7 linked regions of the Homo sapiens genome follow. The protein of the gene in region 3 purifies or fractionates together with the protein of the main gene of each other region. This does not show direct contact. Each region holds a gene or a part of one and is shown on either strand. Other genes may lie near its edges. The genes, in order: PPP2R5A, EXOC6, C3orf18, SACS, PRORP, SAAL1 and EXOC6B.

Region 1 (3,500 bases), on a different chromosome or scaffold from region 3:
TTAAGAGAATTTTAGACCCTTCTGTTACTATTTAGACAATGATTTTAGTTTCCTTTATTAATAGTAGAAAATGATTGTGGAGAGAACTACTTCTTTCACGTTATCCAACAAAGTAAGAAAAATTACCCATTTACTTCAGAAAAATATTGAACATTCTAACAATATTGTGGTACTGACTCTCCTGGAGCTTTGGGGGCAAAAATAAAAGCAACAATGCATAAAGTGACAGGTTTGATAGAAAATGAAGATAGAAATTACTTGGGAATTAATTGACAGTCCTAATTTTCTTTTGGAATCATCAAATGACTTAGAGGAACAGACTTCATAGTAATAGTCTTCCTAAAGTAGTTTGAAGATGAGCAGTCATACAACACCAGGATTGAAGCATAGCACTGTTCCTTATGTACTCATGGATATGACAGCTTTTAGAAACAAAGTAGTAACTACTTAACCCTTCCCCTGCCTTTTTTTCCCTCCAGTATTATCAATGGCTTTGCATTGCCACTGAAAGCAGAACATAAACAATTTCTAATGAAGGTTCTTATTCCTATGCATACTGCAAAAGGATTAGCTTTGTTTCATGCTCAGGTAAGTTTCAGAAACATTTCAGATGAAATGAATATTATTTCAAAGGCCAATATAAAGGCAGAGAAATTGAGAAATACTGAGATGACAGTTTTAAGTATAATTAAGCAATTTGCTTACAAAATTACCCAAAGCAAATTTTTCTTATTTTAAAGTATTTAGTTGTTAAGTAAGACCAATTATTTAATTTCTATATCTACACTTACAGTTTAAGATACACACTTTCCTCATATTATAGTCCAGGTCTTGACCTAATTATGTGACTTTGAATAAATCCCACATATCTACAGAATGTTTCTTCCAGCTGCAATAACCTAGACCTAGTTAGAGAGATTTTGGTCTCTTCTATTAATATTTAGAGAATAATATATCAGCATAGGTGTACATGTAGAAACATGCTGAAAAACTAAATTGTTAGCTCTAGTCTTATTTCAGTTAACTTTATAGTCAGAAATTACTACTAAAAATGTTTTTTAAACTTGAAGTTACTTTCAAGGCTAAAAAGTTACACAATTGTGAGTATAGTTTCACGATTGAGGTATTTCACAATTTCATTCACAGTTGTGAGTATATTTTTATATATTGGAATAATTTATCAAAATGAGGTAGTCTAAAAAATATTGGCTAAATATAAAAATCCTACATTATTAAATGTTATCTCACTAATATTTATAAACTGTCCCTTACCTTTTAGCTAGCATATTGTGTTGTACAGTTCCTGGAGAAAGATACAACACTAACAGAGCCAGTAAGTGTTCTATTTATTTTCATGTTTTTGGTCTGCATTAATAGCATTTCATTGTAGCTTTCGTTTTATAGCCTTTATAGTTATTAAGTAGAATAATGTACGTTAAGCTAAAATCATTTAGAAGAAGAAATGTGAGATTAATCTACATTAAAAGAAGGGGTTAGGAGGGGAGAGTTCTCGTGAGTTATGTCTTGAATAACCGAAATATAGACTACTATTAATATGTAGTAGTTAAGATGTACGATGATAGGATCAGATGACCACAGTGAAATTTTATATGCATACTGTCTTCACCAATAATCTTTTAAATCTTCATTCACCTTTTGGAATTAAAGCATACTTCGAGGGTCCCAAAACTACTACTCCCTTGAATTTTGTTTTGTTTTTAATAATAGAATTTTTGCCACTCATTAACAATAAACCACTTGATAGGGATAGAAAACATTTCCTTGCTTTTGGTGATTAAGATATAAGATGTAATCTTGGAATAAAAGTAGTTTATGAACCAGCAAGGCAACTTAGGCTTTGAATTCTACTGTTATTTGCCTCTAGAATGAAAATTCAGGAGAGAGTGAAAACATAATTAGTTATGAAAATTTACTGAGGATTCAAGAAAAACAAAAGATGAAGTAGGGTGAAACAGAAAAGTATAAAAGCATAGAAAACATTTTAACCTTGGTGAAGTAAGTATTTTGAGAGAATGCTTTCTAGGCATGTTCAGTCTAAATATTTACCTAGTATTAGGTTGGTACAAAAGTGATTGCGGCTTTTGCCATTACTTTTAATGGCAAAAACCACAATCACTTTAGCAGCAACCTAATAAATATTTAGTAAATAGCAAAGGGTTTGAAAAACTAAAATATATATGTATTTTTACTATATTATGAACCTTCTCAGGCTATCCGTAGGGATGCTTGAAAAAATCATATACTTAGTATTCTCCCTTTCACTTGAACTTTGTGTAATGGAACAAAAGACATTTTTCCACTCCTTAATTTTTATTAGTTTTTTGACTTTTAGATTTACAGTCTTTTCTAGAAACAGCTGTAAACAGTTTTTGAAGACAATTCAGGAGAATTAGAAACCATATATTTGTACATGAAACCACATAAACCTCTGAAGTTGATTCCCAGGTGTGCAGTGGCTCACAACTGTAATCCCAGCACTTTGGGAGGCTGAGGCAGGCAGATAACTTGAGGCCAGGAGTTTGAGACCAGCCTGGCCAACATGGTGAAACCCTGTCTCTAGTTAAAATACAAAAATTAGCTGGGCATGGTGGCACAGGCCTGTGGTCCCAGCTACTCAGATGGCAAGGGCACAAGAATTGCTTGAATCCAGGAGGCGTAGGTTGCAGTGATCTGAGCTCATACCAGTGCACTCCAGCCTGGGCAACAGAGTGAGACTCTGTCTTCAAAAAAAAAAAGAAAAAAGTAAAACCTTAATACAAATCTATGATAACTCCCATTAGAATTAAGAAAAAGAAAACCCATAATAACACATATTGAAAAGTCATGGTTCATGCTTGGTAAATAGTATACAAATAAAATTTTATTTAATTAATTTGGGGTGGATAAGGAAGACAGGTGATTTATTTTTAAAGAATGGAAGATAGAGGCTGGGCATGGTGGTTCATGCCTGTAATCCCAGCACTTTGGGAGGCCGAGGCAGGCGGATCACCTCAGGTCAGGAGTTCAAGATCAGCCTGATCAACATGGTGAAACCCCATTTCTACTTAAAAAAAAAAAAAAAAAATTAGCTGGGCATGGTGGCGTGTGCCTGTAATCTCAGCTACTAGGGAGGCCGAGGCACAAGAATCACTTGAACCCTGGAGGCGGAGGTTACAGTGAGCCGAGATGACACAAAAAAAAAAACAAAAAAACAAAAAACCTTGACGATTAGGGAGAGGGATGATGGCCAGTTATTCAGCTTTTATCTGGTTTGGCTGAGTTGGGTTAATGAAAATAGGAGCAGGATGAGGAGAGAGAGTAAGATAAATACCCAGGTTAAGAAAGGAAAATATTTTCCAACTCATAAAGATCTCTCGATATAGAGATCTTGCAATTTCTAACATAGGCCATTCCAGCACCAAAATTACGGCCATATTACTTGGGTTTAAGCCTTAATACTAATTTTCTGGAAAGCAGGCATTCCTATCAAAGCTTTCTAC
Region 2 (3,500 bases), on a different chromosome or scaffold from region 3:
CCAATAATGGGACTGCTGGGTTGAATGGTAGTTCTTTGTGTTTGTTTTTGTTTTTGCTTTTGTTTTTATTTTGTTTTGAGACAGGAACTCACTCTGTTGCCCAGGCTGGAATGAAGTGGCACAATTATGGCTCACTGCAGCCTCGATCTCCTGGGCTCAAGTGATCCTTCCACCTCAGCCTCCCAAGTAGCTGGAACCACAGGTTCGCGCCACTGCTCTTTGCCAATTTTTGTATTTTTAGTGGAGATGAGGTTGTGCCATGTTGGTCAGGCTGGTTTTGAACTCTTGGCCTCAAGCAATCCACCCACCTCAGCCTCCCAAAGTGCTGAGATTACAGGCACAATCCACTGCGCCTGGCCCACAGATTTTTAAAAGTAGTATTTTAATAAAAAGTAAAAGGATGCAAAAATGTTAGCCTGTATCTAAGGCAGTAGTTCTCAACTGGGGATAATTTTGGTTCTCCTGCCACCACCTCCTCCCCACAAATTTGGCAATGTCTAGAAACATCTTTGGTTGTTACAGTTCAGGGGAGAGGTGCTACTTGAAACTAGTGGATAGAGGCCAAACATCCAAATGTGCAGGACAGTCTCCACGACAAAGAATTATCCACCCTAAAATGTCAATAGTGCCGAGATGGATAATCCATGGTCTACAGACAGTTTAACTGTTGTGATAATGAGGCTGTATCCAAGAAATCATTATTTACTTAAATTGAAGACCGAATGGTTAGGAGAAGAGAATTTGTTTTTTAGTGCTAGCTTAGTAATACTTAGGATGTTAAGAAACATCATATTAAAATTAGTTTAAGGTAATTTATTTCTTTGAAGACTTAAAAAATCAATGAAAATGGATAACTTAGTTATATTAAAAATTAAATTTGTTTATTATATCTAGAAAGAGCTCATATCAGTTTGTATTTTAAAAATAATTTTTAGCTATAGTTGTGTATGAAGTTTCTTTCAAAGTGACTGTCTTTTGGGGCTGGGCGCGGTGCCTGACGTCTGTAATCCCAGCACTTTGGGAGGCCAAGGTGGGAGAATTACTTGAGTCCAGGAGTTTGAGACCAGCCTGGGCAACATAGTGCAACCCTGTTTCTATAAAATATTTGAAACTAGCTGGGCATGGTGGCATGCATCTGTAGTCCCAGCTACTCAGAATGTTGAAGTGTGAGAATTGCTTGGGTCCAGGACTTTGGGGCTACAGTGAGCTATAATTGCACCACTGTACTCCAGCCTGGGTGACAAAGTGAGACCCTGGCTCAAAAACAATAATAAAAATAATAAAACAACAAAGTTACTATCCCATGATGGAGTCGGAATTTAGGAATAATTTTGTTTCCTTATACCAAGTCCTCTATGATTTTTCTGTGGTTGTTAATTGGATAAATTTAAATTATGCCATATATGAATATTCTACTTTATGGAAAATGTCCCTTTTGCAAAGTTAAATTGAAGTTTGTGATTTAATAAATATGGGTCTTTGTAGTTTATTTAAAGATATAAAATAATGATGGGGAAAATTATTTTAGTAAACTGTGTTAAATTATTTAGGATGTTAACTAACCACATTCATTATTTATTAAGTTTAATAATATCAATCTTTGTTTTTAGCTCAACAGAAATAGACGATATGCTTAGAAAATCAACAAATCTGCTGCTGACCAGAACTTTGAGTAGCTGTTTACTGAACCTTATTAGAAAACCTCATATAGGTTTGACAGAGGTAGGTTAAAAAGACACATATAGTGAAATGTTTCATTGTATGAAACAATTATTTTAAATTATTGCTGAACGTCATTCTGTAAAACTAGCTTCCTGTTTTAAATGTATTAATATAAGCAGATTTGTTTTCAAAATAAAAACACCAGTGTAAATTCCAGAAATGTGAGGATCCCAGGCACAGTGGCTCATACCTCTAATCCGAGAGCTTTGGGAGGCCAAGGCAGGAGGATTGTTTGAGGTCAGGAGTTTGAGACCAGCCTGGGCAATATAGTGAGACCCTGTTTCTACAAAAAATGAAGACTATTAGCCAGGCGTGGTAGTGTGCAACTATATTCCTAGCTACTCTGGACTTGAGCCCAGGAGGTTGAGGCTGCAGTGAGTTACAATCATACCACTGCACTACACAGCCTGGGTGACAGCAAGACCCTGTCTCTGGAAGAAAAAATAAAAAAATGAGGGAAAAGGGTTCATATGGGGAATAGTAGATAAAGATGTTAGAATATCTATTTAGATTTCTGATTGCCAGACTACAGGAAAAGTCACAATCCTAATTTTTTACTTGCTAAATGTTTAAGATTTGAAACATACTATGAAAAGTTATTTTAAAATAACTGGTATTTAGACTCTTGGTGTGTGTGTGTGTGTGTGTATATATATATATATATAAATTCATACGCAGTATTTGCAACAGGCTTTTAAAATCAGATAGTTGTATCCTATAATGCTGCAATTATGTAGAAATGGTACAGTTGCTGGAAGTAATAATCCCATTTTTAAAAATTAGGTGATTTTACATACATGTAACCTGTATTTTACTAGATATATCTTGTGTTTTCTAGCTGGTACAAATCATCATAAACACAACACACCTGGAGCAAGCTTGTAAATATCTTGAGGACTTTATAACTAACATTACAAATATTTCCCAAGAAACTGTTCATACTACAAGACTTTATGGACTTTCTACTTTCAAGGTATGTAAAAATTTGACCAAAAGTTTTCATTTCAGTCACTGTAAGCAGACGTTAAGAAATTAAAGACCGTTCTTATATATGCAAGATCTACTATATTCCTAAAAATTAAGAATAGAGGTATTCATTGTCAACAATGAGCAAGTAAATGTCAGTTTCTTTTTGGCACTGTAAACATCTTATTAACATGGAGAAAAGTATACTTATTTTCTACAGTGTATTATGCTTTGTTCATGTTTTGATGATTTATAGTAGTGCTGACTAGGTCTAACTGAATTAATATTTCACAGTTTAAAAATTAATTCTATATGAGTGTTTATTTTTGAAAATTTAAAATGTAAGACAAATTAAAAAAGGATAGATTTGTTTTCCATCCTTGATTGGTTCTGATCTGAAGAAAAATAAATATTATTACATGTCATTGAAGTCCTACCTCTTTTGCGGGTGGAAAGATTTCTGTTTGAATAATATACAGAATATACTGAGGATTAATTAATGGTTGTTTTAGGTAGAATGTAAGATTAAACAATTTCATAAGGTATTTTATTATTTGGAGTCATAGATGAGACACTGGCTTAGTCTAGTGTGTATAAATCCCCTTGAATTGAATATTTTATTAAACTAATGATAAACCATGTACTGATCACTTATCTGTAAAATGGGCTTGCTAATTTAACCTTACAGCTCTTTCTAAAAGTTTCCTATTAAAAAGAATTCTCTTTAACTACTTTTGTTATATTATCAATCACCCCCAAGATTTTATTGTAGTAACTTGCATTGTAAAAAATGAATGTACTTGTGTTTTAAA
Region 3 (3,500 bases):
AAGGGGTTGAGCTGGTACTATAGGTGCAAAAATGTCTGTCATTTTTTCCCATTTCAAGGGAAACCTTAAGGCCCTAAGCATGGTTGTGTGCTGTGGCTCAGCTAGTCAGGAGGCAGGGCCTGGAGGGCTGCTGGGAGGGGAAGGGCCTGCCCTGTCCCCAGCAGCCTTTGCCCCCATCCCCAGGCTGGAGAAGCTACGCCACCAGCTCATGCCCATGTACAACTTCGACCCCACGGAGGAACAAGATGAGTTGGAGCAGGAGCTGCTGGAGCATGGGCGGGACGCCGCCTCTGTACAGGCTGCTACTTCTGTGCAGGCCATGCAGGGCAAGGTGGGCACTGACCAGGCTCCCCACCCCGCCTGCAGCATCCTCTGTCCTCCACCCTCACCCTCCCTCCTTTCTCATGCAGCTTTCTAGCACCTGCCTTGTGGTCAGATGGCAGGTATTGGGTATACGGCTTTTTCCAGATTTGTTCAGAAAGTGGTCATATTGCTCTGGGGCCACCCACAAACTCACAGCGCAAGGCCAGGCCAAGGCAGTCCTGGGATACAGCCTGGCTCTGCCCCATAGCCTGCTGATCTTGGGAGCCCCACTGGCATCTCTGAGCCTCAGTGTTCTCTTCCACAATTGAAAATCCTAATTCTTGCCCCATGTGCCCCCACGTACTGGTTAGGAAAGTAGGAAAGGACTAATGGGAGAGACTGTTGGCGGCTAGGACCCCAGGTTCCTCTGCTTCCTGAGGGTCCGTGGTCCTGAGTGGGTTGTGGATGGGGTTAGACTCTTGGACAGCGGTACCTCTGAGTAGGCTGGTGGATTCCCAGTGGCTGACAGACCCAGGCATGTGAAGATCTCAGCCAAACTTGCCTCCTGTGTCCAAAGGGATAGGTACCTGTGTGGCCATCCTGTTGTAACCACTGGGCTGCCTGACCACTTGCCACCATTTCCCCAAATCCCCAAGGGCCAGAGCACCATGAGCAGGCCTGGCCTGCCCCTGACTTATCCAGCCTCTTTGCGTCTTCTTGGGCTCAGAAAGAATCCAGGCTGGAAGTCTGAAGACCCTTTGGTTTTGCCACCAGCTCTGCATCACCTGGGTCAAGATATATTGCCCCCTTGGGATATTCAGGAACTCGCACTGAGAACCTTGGTCCACCCAGCCACTGGGACTTCTGGCCACTTGATACTTGTTTCCCATGTTCCTCCTTGTACCAGCCCCTGTGCTAGGGCCTGGGGATACAGAGTCCAGCCCTCTGATCCCCCACTGGGAAAAGGCAGTGCATGCATAATTAAATCAACACAGTAAGTGCCTCCAAGGTGACAGGGCAAGCTGGGGAGGAGTCATCTGAGCCAAGTCATATTTGTAGGCTGAGCTTGCAGGGAGGGCATTCCAGGCAGAAGCCATTGCTAGTGCCAAGCATAAGCAGGCACCAGGAAGTGAGGGTGGAGGTGACCAGGCCAGTGAGTGCATGGCCTTGCCCATGGTCTCTGATGCCCCTGCCTGTCTTCCTGCAGACTACTCTGCCCTCCCAGGGCCCACTGCAGAGACCCAGCCGGCTGGTGTTTACCGATGTGGCCAATGCCATCCATGCGTGAGTGGCCTGGGACAAGCCTGGACTTCTGATAGAGACCCATCACGGTGCCTACAGAGCTCCCCACTCCCTGATTGTCAAGACCTACTCTGAAGATCTTCCCTGCCAAGACACAAGAGGGCTGAGCCAGGTCCTAGCTGTTCTCCAGACCCACCTGCTGACTTTAGACTCTAAGAGAGGGCCCTAGCCAGGCTGGACTTCTGACCACTGACTTCTCCTGACCTGAGGGCCCTGGCACAGAGGGCATCCCTCATGCTGAGAAGGTCAAGAGCCTCTGCTGGCTTCCTCATCCCCTGTCCAGATCCCTCACATCAGGGTCTGCCCCGCTAATGTGGAGGAAATGAGGGAGATACGGAGTGGGAGGGATTGGGGGAGGAAAGGGGAGGTTTCCCTCTGTTAGGGAGAGACCTGTTTTTTGGAATCTGGAGCCTCCTCTGGGGTGGGGAGAGGAAACCACCCAAGTTATAGGGACAGGGTAGGGCAGCATCTGTTATGGGCCCTGAGAAGCCCAGAGATGGAGCTGAAACTGTCCAGTATGCAAGGATGCCAGGAGAAGGGCAATTCACACCCAGGGTCCATCCATACTACGGAGGGTCCAGGAGGTCTCCCAGCCACCCATCCTTGGCAACCAGATGTTACTGGGGCCAAGCTAGGATGGGAGCTGAGGGGGAAGGAAGTAGGGGAATGGAAGTGGAAGGATGCAGCCCCCCCAGACCTGCCGAGAGGCCTCATGCATGTGCATGAGTGTGCCCATGGGCAGACATGTGCCTGTCCCAGCACAGCGGGCAGAATGAGATTGTCCACACTGGCCCCACCCTCCAAGTCGACCTCTACCCCATGGTATGTAGTGGAGCATCAGGGTAGGCTATCTTCTCTGCCTTCAATCTTCAGGGACTGCAGGGAAGAGGGAAGCACGCACAGCACGGTTCCTCTCTCCACTGCATTGTTTCACTGGGCTCACCTGCTTCTGAAAACGGCTCCCTGTCTTGGGCTCTAATGAGGATCTGGGGTTGGGAGAGGCTGTTGGTCTGAGGGCAGTAATCACAGGCTGCAGGCTAGAGGGGGCAGTTATGACTGCCTGAAAGTGGGTGAGGGATTGCACTTCAGAAAAACATCTAAAAAACTTAGTCTATGTTTGAATTCCCCACCTCCATCCCATCTATGGGAAGAGCCGTTCAGTGTTTAGAGAGTGGGGAGATGGGTCCCTGCACTTGGCCTCTCCATAAGCCTTGGAGGGTCAGGGCTGATACCAGGGGTCCTGGCAAGCCATTGGGCAGAGACAGACCACAAGAGCAGGGCATTTTTTTACGCTGGGCATACATATGCACACAAGCATGCACAGAGGCATGTCCCGTGCCCAGCCTCTCCACCGTCACTGTCCGCTGCTGGCTGGAGGGGATGCAGGGGTAGTGTATGCAGACCTTCCACTGGGCAAATGCCATGTGTCAGGAGGGAAAGGCCTAGGAAGCCCCCATGGGGAAGGTTCTGGATTTATTCCCTCCTCTAAATGCTATAAATACGTTAGCACTTGAGTCGACTGGAGGCTGCCAGGAATTCAGGATGCATACAGCTGTAATTTAACCCAGAGCAGCTCCACGTGAGAGCATTAAAGATGTAATGAAGATGTTTACATGGAGAGTGTGTGAGCCTGTGACGCTTGGGGTGTGGAACCCTAGGAGGGGCAGGATGGGTGAGGGGCTGTGGGGGGCCTGGGGATAGTTGCTTGGATCACAGCTATGAGGTGGCACCCCAGGTTTCTCTTGAGCCGTCTGAGGAAATGCCTCTGGCCCTGACTTCGAGGTTGCCCTGGGGCTTCATTTCCCAACTGTGGATTGGGGTCCCAAGGCCTGTCACCCCCTAGGGTGGAAAGGTCAACTGGACAGGACCTTGTGAGACCGGAGGAGGAAGGGGGC
Region 4 (2,187 bases), on a different chromosome or scaffold from region 3:
GCCAGAGCAAACTTCTCAGCTGCCAGGAATGACCTTCATAAAAATGCCAATGAGTGGGTGTGCTTTAAATGTTACCTTTCTACCAAGTTAGCTTTGATTGCAGCTGACTATGCTGTGAGGGGAAAGTCTGATAAAGATGTAAAACCAACTGCACTTGCTCAGAAAATAGAGGAATATAGTCAGCAACTTGAAGGACTGACAAATGATGTTCACACATTGGAAGCTTATGGTGTAGACAGTTTAAAAACAAGATACCCTGATTTGCTTCCCTTTCCTCAGATCCCAAATGACAGGTTCACTTCTGAGGTTGCTATGAGGGTGATGGAATGTACTGCCTGTATCATAATAAAACTTGAAAATTTTATGCAACAAAAAGTGTGAAGATATTTAACGAAAAAAAAGGTAGATCTTGAATGTGTTGTAGCACGAATAAATTGCTGTACTTCATTAAGCTTCATTGCCAATTAGCTAGGAATTGTTAAGCACATTGCAGATTGTTCTTGGAGAATTCTGGAGTTGTTATGAACATGAATACCAACGGAAAACCTTAACTGAATCTAAAAGAAAACTATTTTGAAGATGGTGGTGAGCTGCAAAATAGCTGGATGGATTTGAATGATTGGGATGATACATCATTGAACTGCACTTTATATAACCAAAGCTTAGCAGTTTGTTAGATAAGAGTCTATGTATGTCTCTGGTTAGGATGAAGTTAATTTTATGTTTTTAACATGGTATTTTTGAAGGAGCTAATGAAACACTGGACATATAATTGGTTTAAACATAAGGGGAATTAAGTCTTTGTAGTCTGTCATTTTTTTAAGTGGATCCTCTTGGATGCGTTATTTTCTCATCAGCTGGCTCTGATCATGAATTTGTTGTAATTTTATGTTGTACTCAGTGCATTTAAGAAATGGTAGAGTATTTTAATCCTATTACTTGACTAAGAGTGTGAAGGTAGTACTTTTTAGAGTGCACTGAGTGCACTTTACATCTTTATTTAAATTTTTTTTTAACATCTTATGTTTACAGGCTTCCTGTTTGATGAAGATAGCAACGGAAAACTCAAAATGGTGGCAGTTCTTATTACCAGTTGTTAGTATTGTTTCTGGAAACTGCTTGCCAAGACAACATTTATTAACTGTTAGAACACTTGCTTTATGTTTGTGTGTACATATTTTCCACAAATGTTATAATTTATATAGTGTGGTTGAACAGGATGCAATCTTTTGTTGTCTAAAGGTGCTGCAGTTAAAAAAAAAACAACCTTTTCTTTCAATATGGCATGTAGTGGAGTTTTTTTAACTTTAAAAACATCAAAAATTGTTAAAATCATTGTGTTATCTAGTAGTTTATAATTATCGGCTTATATTTCCCCATGAATGATCAGAACTGACATTTAATTCATGTTTGTCTCGCCATGCTTCTTTACTTTAACATATTTCTTTTGCAGAATGTAAAAGGTAATGATAATTAGTTTATATAAGTGTACTGGCTGTAAATGATGCTAAATATACTTTATGCAATTAAGGGCTTACAGAACATGTTGAAACTTTTTTTACTTTTATTGGGAATAAGGAATGTTTGCACCTCCACATTTTATTGCTTCTGGATGTGAAATCATGTAATTATTTCTGCTGTTATATAAAGTGCCATACTTTTAATAAAGGAAAATGTACATATGAAATCATCGTAATGGGTGTTTCCTGAGAAATAGTTCATTGGAAATCAAACTTAACATCTTAATATTAAGTTTTAATGTGTGTGTATGTGTGTATTTATTGGAAATATTAGGAAAATATTTTCCTGTATATTTTCATGCTGGAATTATAGATTTTTAGGATTAATAGAATATGAAGTGCTTGTTATATACTAGGTTTAGGTGCTCATTGATTTAGTTGAGTTTATGTCACCTTTTTAGGGAATCAGATTAGCTGATATATGTGGTATATATGTGTTTGGAAACAGATACATTAAATATTTTTTTCCTCTAGGTAGAGCTGAATTGATATTTCCATTGCCTCAGGGACAGCTGCATGTCTGGGACTAATTCACACTTTATTACTGACAGATAGGAGTTCTTCATCTTTATAGTTGAGGCACAAGTCTTCAGAGTTAGGCAGATGAGGGCTAAGAGTGCTCTCTGTTCTGGAGCTACCTGAATTCTGTGCCTTCAGCTTTATTTAA
Region 5 (3,500 bases), on a different chromosome or scaffold from region 3:
GATTGGCTGAATCTTTACCTCTCCAAAACAGCCATAGGTAAATAAAAGCCTCTTAATGACAAAAGAGGACCTATACGTTTTACAGCCTTGTTCTTTCAGCACGGTTGTACTGGTAGAGTGGCATACCTAAGGTTCACTCCTCCTTGGCCTACAGAACAGGACTTAGAGATTTTGACAGTTCATTCTTCTTTTTTTTTTCTTTTTTTTTTTTTTATTATACTTTAAGTTCTAGGGTACATGTGCACAATGTGCAGGTTTGTATACATGTGCCATGTTGGTGTGCTGCACCCGTTAACTCGTCATTTACGTTACGTATATCTCCTAGTGCTATCCCTCCCCCCTCCCCCCACCCCACGACAAGCCCTGATGTGTGATGTTCCCCTTCCTATGTCCAAGTGTTCTCATTGTTCAATTCGCACTTATGAATAAGAACACGCGGTGTTTGGTTTTCTGTCCTTGCAATAGTTTGCTCAGAATGATGGTTTCCAGCTTCATCCATGTCCTTACAAAGGACATGAACTCATCCTTTTTTATGGCTGCATAGGATTCCATGGTGTATATGTGCCACATTTTCTTAACCCAGTCTATCATTGATGGACATTTGGGTTGGTTCCAAGTCTTTGCTATTGTGAACAGTGCCGCAATAAACATACATGTGCATGTGTCTTTATAGCAGCATGATTTATAATCCTTTGGGTATATAACCAGTAATGGGATGGCTGGGTCAAATGGTATTTCTAGTTCTAGATCCCTGAGGAATCGCCACACTGTCTTCCACAATGGTTGAACTAGTTTACAGTCCCACCAACAGTGTAAAAGTGTTCTTACTTCTCCACATCCTCTCCAGCACCTGTTGTTTCCTGACTTTTTAATGATCGCCATTCTAACTGGTGTGAGATGGTATCTCATTGTGGTTTTGATTTGCATTTCTCTGATGGCCAGTGATGATGAGCATTTTTTCATGTGTCTGTTGGCTGAATAAATGTCTTCTTTTGAGAAGTGTCTGTTCATGTCCTTTGCCCACTTTTTGATGGGGTTGTTTTTTTTCTTGTAAATTTGTTAGAGTTCTTTGTAGATTCTGGATATTAGCCCTTTGTCAGATGAGTAGATAGCAAAAATTTTCTCCCATTCTGTAGGTTGCCTGTTCACTCTGATGGTAGGTTCTTTTGCTGTGCAGAAGCTCTTGAGTTTAATTAGATCCCATTTGTCAATTTTGGCTTTTGTTGCCATTGCTTTTAGTGTTTTAGACATGAAGTCCTTGCCCATGCCTATGTCCTGAATGGTATTGCCTAGGTTTTCTTCTAGAGTTTTTATGGTTTTAGGTCTAACATTTAAGTCTTTAATCCAACTTGAATTAATTTTTGTATAAGGTGTAAGGAAGGGATCCAGTTTCAGCTTTCTACATATGGCTAGCCAGTTTTCCCAGCACCATTTATTAAATAGGGAATCCTTTCCCCATTGCTTGTTTTTGTCAGGTTTGTCAAAGATCAGATAGTTGTAGATAAGCGGCATTATTTCTGAGGGCTCTGTTCTGTTCCATTGGTCTATATCTCTGTTTTGGTACCAGTACCATGCTGTTTTGGTTACTATAACCTTGTAGTATAGTTTGCAGTCATGTAGCTTGATGCCTCCAGCTTTGTTCTTTTGGCTTAGGATTGTCTTGGCAATGCAGGCTCTTTTTTGGTTCCATATGAACTTTAAAGTAGTTTTTTCCAATTCTGTGAAGAAAGTCATTGGTAGCTTGATGGGGATGGCATTGAATCTATAAATTACCTTGGGCAGTATGGCCATTTTCACAATACTGATTCTTCCTATCCATGAGCATGGAATGTTCTTCCATTTGTTTGTGTCCTTTTTTATTTCGTTGAGCAGTGGTTTGTAGTTCTCCTGGAAGAGGTCCTTCACATCCCTTGTAAGTTGGATTCCTAGGTATTTTATTCTCTTAGTAGCAATTTTGAATGGGAGTTCACTCATGATTTGGCTCTCTGTTTGTCTGTTATTGGTGTGTAAGAATGCTTGTGATTTTTGTACATTGATTTTGTATCCTGAGACTTTGCTGAAGCTGCTTATCAGCTTAAGGAGATTTTGGGCTGAGACAATGGGGTTTTCTAAATATACGATCATGTCATCTGCAAACAGGGACAATTTGACTTCTTCTTTTCCTAATTGAATACCCTTTATTTCTTTCTCCTGCCTGATTGTCCTGGCCAGAACTTCCAACACTATGTTGAATAGAAGTGGTGAGAGAGGGCATCCCTGTCTTGTGCCGGTTTTCAAAGGGAATGCTTCCAGTTTTTGCCCATTCAGTATGACATTGGCTGTGGGTTTGTCATAAATAGCTCTTATTATTTTGAGATACGTCCCATCAATACCTAATTTATTGAGAGTTTTTAGCGTGAAGGGCTGTTGAATTTTGTCAAAGGCCTTTTCTGCATCTATTGAGATAATAGTGTGGTTTTTGTCTTTGGTTCTGTTTATATGCTGGATTACATTTATTGATTTGCGTATGTTGAACCAGCCTTGCATCCCAGGGATGAAGCCCACTTGATCGTGGTGGATAAGCTTTTTGATGTGCTGCTGGATTCAGTTTGCCAGTATTTTATTGAGGATTTTTCCATCGATGTTCATCTGGGATATTGGTCTAAAATTTCTCTTTTTTTGTTGTGTCTCTGCCAGACTTTGGTATCAGGATGATGTTGGCCTCATAAAATGAGTTAGGGAGGATTCCCTCTTTTTCTATTGATTGGAATAGTTTCAGAAGGAATGGTACCAGCTCCTCCTTGTACCTCTGGTAGAATTTGGCTGTGAATCCGTCTGGTCCTGGACTTTTTTTGGTTTGTAGGCTATTAATTATTGCCTCAATTTCAGATCCTGTTATTGGTCTATTCAGAGATTCAACTTCTTCCTGGTTTAGTCTTGGGAGGGTGTATGTGTCCAGGAATTTATCCATTTCTTCTAGATTTTCTAGTTTATTTGCGTAGAGGTGTTTATAGTATTCTCTGATGGTAGTTTGTATTTCTGTGGGATCGGTGGTGATATCCCCTTTATCATTTTTTATTGTGTCTATTTGAGTCTTCTCTCTTTTCTTCTTTATTAGTCTTTCTAGCAGTCTATCAATTTTGTTGATCTTTTCAAAAAACCAGCTCCTAGATTCATTGATTTTTTTGAAGGGTTTTTTGTGTCTCTGTCTCTTTCAGTTCTGCTCTGATCTTAGTTATTTCTTGCCTTCTGCTAGCTTTTGAATGTGTTTGCTCTTGCTTCTCTAGTTCTTTTAATTGTGATGTTAGGGTGTCGATTTTAGATCTTTCCTGCTTTCTCTTGTGGGCATTTAGTGCTATAAATTTCCCTCCACACACTGCTTTAAATGTGTCCCAGAGATTCTGGTATGTTTTGTCTTTGTTCTCATTGGTTTCAAAGAACATCTTTATTTCTGCCTTCATTTCATTATGTACCCAGTATTCATTCAGGAGCAGGTTGTTCAATTTCCATGTAGTTGAGCG
Region 6 (3,500 bases), on a different chromosome or scaffold from region 3:
AATTTAAATCAAAGAGAAAACATTTTCTTGTGCTTTATTTTACATTGAACATTTAACAACTTCATTAACGTTGCACATCATTTGCTTTTTTTTGCTCCTTGTGTTTATATGCCAGTCTTCAATAAGTGACCGATGTTGGGACTCTGATGTCTTGCCAAGAGTGATTACTAAGCCTTACAGGTCATTAAAACTGTTTATTGCTAATCACTAGAAAATTAATTTTTAAATTGATCTGCTTAGTGTTTTTCTTAGTGCATTCTTAGTGCTGAGTAAGCCACATCAAAACCTATTAATTTTGTGTCCTTTATCCAAGTGAGGGATAAATTCATCATCTTTCCCTAAACCTGCTTCATCAGTATTCTCAATCTCAGTAAATGATGTAATCATTATCCTATTTGGATAATGTAGAAGAAATGGAGAAGCCAATTACTGAATCTTTCCTGCCCCAGTATTTTCCCATTGCAGTCAACTCCCAACCCTTATTCCTGACATTTTCTGGGATTCCATCCATGCCAATCAAGCCATTATTGTTTCTCATCTGGAGAACTGCCACATTCTTTTACTTGAATTCCCTGCCTCTATGCTTGCTCTTCCCAAGCCTAGACTTTAAAGCTGTTTTTGCAAAGTACGCACTCATTTCACTCTCATGCTTCGGTCTTTTCAGTTGCCTTCCTTAGGATAAGGTCCAGAAAAACAAACAAACAAACACAGCTTGGGTACTACATACATCACCTGGGTGATGGGACCATCCATATTCCCAAACCTCAGCATCATGCATGTAACAACCCCCAACATGTACCTTCTGAATCCAAAATATAAATAAATAAAATAGGGGAAAAAAGAATGAAATAAATGAAAAATTCTCAAAAAAATAAAGTACAGCTTATGGACCCAGTAGCGCTATCCTTATTCCTTGTACTCTGCGTTTCAGTCATGTGAAGTTTGCGTCACTTCTTCAACTGAACCAGGCTGTCTTGTCTCCAGGCCCTTGCACAGTATGTTTCCTCCACCTCAGACACTTCTTTGCCCCTTCATGTTTCTGTGTAAACATCATTTTTCTTAAGATACCTTCCCTGACCCTGCAAACTAAGTCTCCTTGCTTTGTGAAGTTCCTAGCCCATAGTGCTACATTAGTACCACTTTATTGTAATTACCCCACTTGGAATCTTCTTTCCTTTTAGAGTATAAAGTTTATGAAGGTAGGGATAACATCTTATACATCTGTTTTCTCAACTCCTAACATAGTGCCTGAAATTTGTAAGTACTTAAATAAACATTTGCCAAACCATTGTTTTAATTGTTCACTGTCTTTTCACTTGTTTGGTTGAAGAACTAAGATTTTGAGTTTCCAAACTATTTAGATTTTTGAGAATCCAAACGGTTGATCATAAGAATTAGACTTACATGGTTTTAGTGTTCTCAGCTAGGGAGCTAGGTTAATCCTGAGACATTTTCAGAACATCATTATTGTTGATGCGTGATGCAGCGGACCTTAACGTTCATACTATAAAAATCGCAGTCTTTTTTTGTTCTGATTATTCAAGCAAACCAAAATGATAAAGTATCAACTGGTAGGTTTCTGCGTTGTTGCTTTTATGAGATAGAGCCAAAAAGTTTTTTTACTTCTTGTCCTGTGTGTGTTGATTATATTATATAATATTTGTTTATTTTTTGCTGTTTCCCCTATTAGAATATAAAAGCTCTAACGAACACAGAGACTTCGTTCCTTTCCTTGTTTTATCCTCAGCACCTTGAACAGTGGCTGGCAGAGTAATAAATATTTATTGAATGGAGGAATGATTGGAATCCCCTGGACAGTAAAGTTGTTGATTCAGTGCTTTTACTTTTCCTATTTAGTTCTGAAAATCCAGAATGGCTTGATGTTTACATGCACATTTTACAACTGCTTACTACAGTGGATGATGGAATTCAAGCAATTGGTAAGGTGGTTTATCGGGATGCACTACAGTTACTCATTTAATTGTTTGCTGATTTTAAAGTACTGCTTTATTTGTCCTCTTTATTAAGTACATTGTCCTGACACTGGAAAAGACATTTGGAATTTACTTTTTGACCTGGTCTGCCATGAATTCTGCCAGTCTGATGATCCACCCATCATTCTTCAAGAACAGAAAACAGTGCTAGCCTCTGTTTTTTCAGTGTTGTCTGCCATCTATGCCTCACAGACTGAGCAAGAGTATCTAAAGATAGAAAAAGGCAAGTACAGTTTCCCAGGCTCATACTGTTTTTCATTTCATTTATTTCTCCCTTTTAAAAAATGCTTTCATTTCCCTAATTATAAAAACATTACATGCTAAACTTCAAAAATTTATTTTATTATCATATTTATTTATTTTATTTTTTATTGATTTTTATTTTTTGGAAACAGAGTCTTGCTGTGTTGCACAGGCTGGAGTGCAGTGGTACAATCTTGGCTCAGTGTAACCTCTGCCTCCTGGGTTCAAGTGATTCTCGTGCCTCAGCCTCCCAAGTACCTGGGATTACAGGCGCACACCACTATGCCCAGCTAATTTTTGTATTTTTTCAGTAGAGACGGGTTTTTACCGTGTTGGCCAGGCTGGGCTCGAACTCCCGACCTCAGGTGATCCACCCACCTCGGCCTCCCAAAGTGCTGGGATTACAGGCGTGAGCCACCCCACCTGGCCTGTTTACTTATTTTAAAGCCAGAGTCTTATTTTGTTGCCCAGGCTGTAGTGCAGTGGCAGGATCATAGCTCACTGCAACCTTGAATTCCTGGGCTCAGGTGATTGTCTCACCTCAGCCTCCTGAGTAGCTGGGACTACAGGCACATGACGCCACACCTGGCTAGTTTTTAAATATTTATAGAGACAGGGTCTCACAATCTTGCCCAGGCTTGTCACAAACTCCTGGGCTCAAATGACCTTCCTGCCTTGCCTTCCAGAGTGCTGGGATTACAGGCATGAGCCACTGCACCCTGCCGAAAAATTTATAAAAAATATCAAGGAAACATGATGTTTGTAATCTTACCATCCCACACATGCACATATATTTAATTCTGCTTTTTAGCCAACATTTCATTTAGAAATATAAAATGAATATTTTCCTATATAAACACATATTCTTTCACAGAATTGTTTTTATGACCACAATTAAATTCATGATTCATTTAGAATTTATTCTCGTGTCACATGTGAAGTGTGGCTTTAATTTTTTTTCCCCCTTTGATAACTTTGGTTCTAGTGGTATCAGTTTTTTCCCAGAGGGCTACCCAGTTATCTCAACATCATTTAGTGAATAATCCAGCTTACCCACACTGATTTGAAATTTCATCATTATTTTTAAAATTCCCCTATATATTCTGTTCAGTTCCATTGCTGTATTCATATATTAGTAGCCATAGTGTTTTTAAATATTAAGGTTTTATGTTTTAATACCTAATAAGGCAAATTCCTCTTCATTCTAAGTTTTCAGAATGTTTTTAACTATTTTTATCACTAACTTTGAGTTCCAAAAACAAA
Region 7 (3,500 bases), on a different chromosome or scaffold from region 3:
TCATTCTCAGCAAACTATCTATCGCAAGGACAAAAACCAAACACCTCATGTTCTCACTCATAGGTGGGAATTGAACAATGAGAACACATGGACACAGGAAGGGGAACATCACACACCGGGGCCTGTCGTGGGGTTGGGGGGAGGGGGAGGGATAGCATTAGGAGATATACATAATGTAAATGACGAGTTAATGGGTGCAGCACACCAACATGGCACATGTATACATATGTAACAAACCTGCACGTTGTGCACATGTACCCTAGAACTTAAAGTATAATTAAAAAAAAAAAAAAGAAAGAAATACTGATACTAGAGTAGAAAGTCAAGGGAAATTCTCTTCTAAAGGATAACTCTCTGAGGCCTTGGGTCAACAGAAGGAAGTGGTAGAAGCCTTTTAACTTGCTAATGAAAATAGGCATGACCTGAAAATGGCCTGAGGGGCCGTTTGGGACCATCCTGGCCCAGACCAACCAGTGTGCCTGTCTCTCCCCCACTCCTTCTCTCATCTCTAAAATCCCTTTCTTGGCTGAGGGTATAGGGACTTTTCTAAGTTTTAGGTTTGGGACTTCAGCCAATTCCCATCCTGCTTCAGGAAGTTCATAACAGCTATTCTAAGAAACTGGATGAAGTGGAGACTTGGCCAAACAGGGCAAGGCCCATACTGCCTGTTTGCCCAGCTGCACAGTGAAGACAGACATGGAGGAAGGTGTGCCTAGAGCCCAGGCTCTGGCATTGGATATGACTGCACTCTTGGCCCTCTGCCTTTGTTCTGCACAACCAGCCATCTACTTGTCCTCATCAGCACTTACCTATCTCCTGGAAAGGGAGAAATGGAGAATGTCTTGAGTCAAAAAGTACTGTGAGGGTTCTCCCTCTATGCAGTGATATGAGTCTGGGACTGTGCCCCTTCTAGAAGCTTTTATTTGTTTGTTTTACTTAGTTACAATTTTTGAATATTTGTTAGTGTGATGTCTGAGGCTAAAACTGACTGGGAAGGAAAGCCTTTGACAAAAGTTTAGTTTCTCTCAGTCAAAATCTCCCGTGTCAGAACTCAGCTCACCCTCAGAAAGCTCTCATTGTCTTTTCACACATCTAGCTCTTGGCACTTCTCTTTAACACTCATAACCCAATTCTAGCTAGACTCTGTGTCCTCAATCATGGGCTAATCTACTATGGCCCTGATTTCATCTTCTTAGCCTGTGTCTGCATAGACGTAACACATATTGCCTCTTATAAATGCTACATGATCCATTTATGCCTTGTTTCAGTGTTTCTGTGTTATCTGTGTGTCCTATTTGTATATAGGCATGTGTATATGTCTGTATTACCTAAGTCACTTGGGCTAAGTCAGTACAGCAAGTCACAGAACTGATACTTGAACCCAGACCTTTTAACCTTGAAGTTCAAACAATTGTATATGTGGCACTGGACTACATCCACCTTTATTTGTTCTTTGTTGAATACTGAGAATGGTTCTTGGCATGTTGAAGGCATTTGATAAGTATTTATTAAATGAGTAAGTGAATAATTATTATGATATTATTATCATATTTGATTCAGTCCCGTGTTAGTTTCTTTACAGGGTTGCCTCTGAGAGCTGACTGCTGGCATATAGTCTTAGCAATGTTTCCATACTGCTTATGGCAGAGATAAGTCTGCCATCTAATGTTTACTCACTTATTTTCTTGGTTGAAAGAATAGTCTGCAGCTGTTCTTTTTCTTATTATATTTTAATTTTTATATATCCAATTTATTAGCTGGTAGTGAAGGATGATGAAGTTTCTGGAATCTTGGTTTGTCTTGTCTGTCTGACTAATCCCTGGGGTGGGGTTTGGATATTTTACAGCTTTTGGATCTTTTCATCCAGTGGGATTGGTCAACCTACCTTGCTGACTATGGTCAGCCCAACTGCAAGTACCTCCGGGTAAACCCAGTGACTGCTCTGACCCTGCTTGAGAAGTGAGTACCTTGTCCAATGGTCTGTGTTGGGAGGTGGGGAGACAGGGATTGGGGGTTGGCGTAGAAGATAATTTTGCCACTGCCAATACCTTGAAAGATAGCCTTGTTCTGGAAGTTGCCATAGGCCCTGGGTGCTGTCAGCAATCTCAGTCACTGGACTTGGCAGGCCAGTCTTCCTCCTGTGGCTTATTAATTCCTGAGCCCCCAACAAGCCAGGCCAAGTATGGATCAGAATTGGATTCTGACATTACCTTCTAGTTTAATGGGTCTCTTACTAGCGTCTCTTACTAGATATGGCAAGAGAAAAAAAAATGGCTCGGTTTGGGGCTCAGGCCAGCCTGGTGAACAGAATGAGGCTGCCCTAGTCACCTGGGGTATGATGATGGATAGTGCAACTCCACAGAACAGATGGTTTCTCTGGTTCCTAGTAGAGAATCCCTGGAAATTATTTAGAATTATTGAAACCTTCATCTGTTCCCAGCTCCCACCCCCTGCCAGACTGAGCTTTATTGTGCTGACTATCCCAACAAAGCTGTGTTGGAGAAGGTGTCTAATTCTTGCCTTAAGCAGTCACTAGCCTGCAGAGGGTTCCCTGCCACAGAGCTGTAGCCTCTCTGAAGCAGAGGTGCTACCACTGAAAGTAAGTTAGGCAGCTCCAGGAAATCTCAGGGCTAACAAATATGTCACCCAGAAGCTGGGAAATGCTATGTATTACAGCCTGGCTCTGGCTTTGCTAATCTATTAGAGAGCTGGCAGGTCAGAGACCAAGACCCATATAAAAAGGCAGGTTTCTCTTGAAATCTGAGAAACTAGTTAAGCCCCAGCTACTTGGAAGAATGCCCTGCATCTAGGCAGTGTAGGAAGTCTACATATATGGCCAGTCAACCATGTCTCAAATCCTAGGAAGACAAGGCTCAGAGTCCAGGAAGTCAGAGTGGAGCCTTAAGCAGAAGGAGAGGTCAAAGTCTATCCTTCTTACTATGTAATATGAAAGGGGGAGAAAAGGGGAAGAGATGAAGGGTAGGCAAGAGCATGATGCAGGTGTATGTATTTGGAGCCAAGAGACTAAAAACTCAGACTGCAGTTTTCTCCTGACCACGTCAGAGATTGATGTTTCCATTTTAACTTTGTTTCCCATGGTTCTCTCTCCCACTGACCTTCCGCCCTAGGATATCTAGAGAGTAAGTATATTATTCACTTGGGCCTTTTCCATCACTTTGAGGCAAGTCCTTCTGGTTTCCTCATTGACACTAATGACTACACTAAAATCCCTAGCCTCTGAGTTGTCCCCGCCCTGACATACTAATCTACTAAACCAGCCTGGTGCCAACTGGCTGGCTGCCTTCTCTATCCTTGGCCCTTACAGTGACCCTTGGCTTACTAATTCCTTTGGGGCTGGGAGTGGCGGCAGGGATTTTCTCCCATTGTGCCAGGTAAAGGGTTGTTCCCATTCAGCTTCTTGGCACACTCAATACTCTTGCTAGTGTGGGGCCTGAAATAAAGCCCTGACCGAAGGGAGCTCCTCAGCAGCCTCCCCTACC

The links.
Region 1: the proteins of C3orf18 (region 3) and PPP2R5A purify together in Homo sapiens (co-immunoprecipitation; one large-scale study listed by IntAct). This does not show direct contact.
Region 2: the proteins of C3orf18 (region 3) and EXOC6 purify together in Homo sapiens (affinity purification with mass spectrometry; one large-scale study listed by BioGRID and IntAct). This does not show direct contact.
Region 4: the proteins of C3orf18 (region 3) and SACS purify together in Homo sapiens (affinity purification with mass spectrometry; one large-scale study listed by BioGRID and IntAct). This does not show direct contact.
Region 5: the proteins of C3orf18 (region 3) and PRORP purify together in Homo sapiens (affinity purification with mass spectrometry; one large-scale study listed by BioGRID and IntAct). This does not show direct contact.
Region 6: the proteins of C3orf18 (region 3) and SAAL1 purify together in Homo sapiens (co-immunoprecipitation; 2 studies listed by BioGRID and IntAct, with this or other methods). This does not show direct contact.
Region 7: the proteins of C3orf18 (region 3) and EXOC6B purify together in Homo sapiens (co-immunoprecipitation; 2 studies listed by BioGRID and IntAct, with this or other methods). This does not show direct contact.

The regions. Positions count from the first base shown.
Region 1 is NC_000001.11:212,347,910-212,351,409, forward strand, and holds part of PPP2R5A (serine/threonine-protein phosphatase 2A 56 kDa regulatory subunit alpha isoform), read left to right. Parts: intron 1-479; coding exon 480-588; intron 589-1,279; coding exon 1,280-1,333; intron 1,334-3,500. UniProt on the Homo sapiens protein: The B regulatory subunit might modulate substrate selectivity and catalytic activity, and might also direct the localization of the catalytic enzyme to a particular subcellular compartment.
Region 2 is NC_000010.11:92,953,020-92,956,519, forward strand, and holds part of EXOC6 (exocyst complex component 6), read left to right. Parts: intron 1-1,610; coding exon 1,611-1,722; intron 1,723-2,560; coding exon 2,561-2,695; intron 2,696-3,500. UniProt on the Homo sapiens protein: Component of the exocyst complex involved in the docking of exocytic vesicles with fusion sites on the plasma membrane.
Region 3 is NC_000003.12:50,557,748-50,561,247, reverse strand, and holds the end of C3orf18 (uncharacterized protein C3orf18), read left to right. Parts: intron 1-183; coding exon 184-331; intron 332-1,510; coding exon 1,511-1,591; 3' UTR 1,592-2,101; coding exon of another isoform or gene 2,102-2,584; 3' UTR 2,585-3,223; downstream 3,224-3,500.
Region 4 is NC_000013.11:23,328,330-23,330,516, reverse strand, and holds the end of SACS (sacsin), read left to right. Parts: coding exon 1-381; 3' UTR 382-1,687; downstream 1,688-2,187. UniProt on the Homo sapiens protein: Co-chaperone which acts as a regulator of the Hsp70 chaperone machinery and may be involved in the processing of other ataxia-linked proteins.
Region 5 is NC_000014.9:35,174,552-35,178,051, forward strand, and holds part of PRORP (mitochondrial ribonuclease P catalytic subunit isoform 1 precursor), read left to right. Parts: intron 1-3,500.
Region 6 is NC_000011.10:18,085,583-18,089,082, reverse strand, and holds part of SAAL1 (protein SAAL1), read left to right. Parts: intron 1-1,857; coding exon 1,858-1,940; intron 1,941-2,028; coding exon 2,029-2,217; intron 2,218-3,500. UniProt on the Homo sapiens protein: Plays a role in promoting the proliferation of synovial fibroblasts in response to pro-inflammatory stimuli.
Region 7 is NC_000002.12:72,182,534-72,186,033, reverse strand, and holds part of EXOC6B (exocyst complex component 6B), read left to right. Parts: intron 1-1,846; coding exon 1,847-1,959; intron 1,960-3,128; coding exon of another isoform or gene 3,129-3,144; exon of another isoform or gene 3,145-3,181; intron 3,182-3,500. UniProt on the Homo sapiens protein: Component of the exocyst complex involved in the docking of exocytic vesicles with fusion sites on the plasma membrane.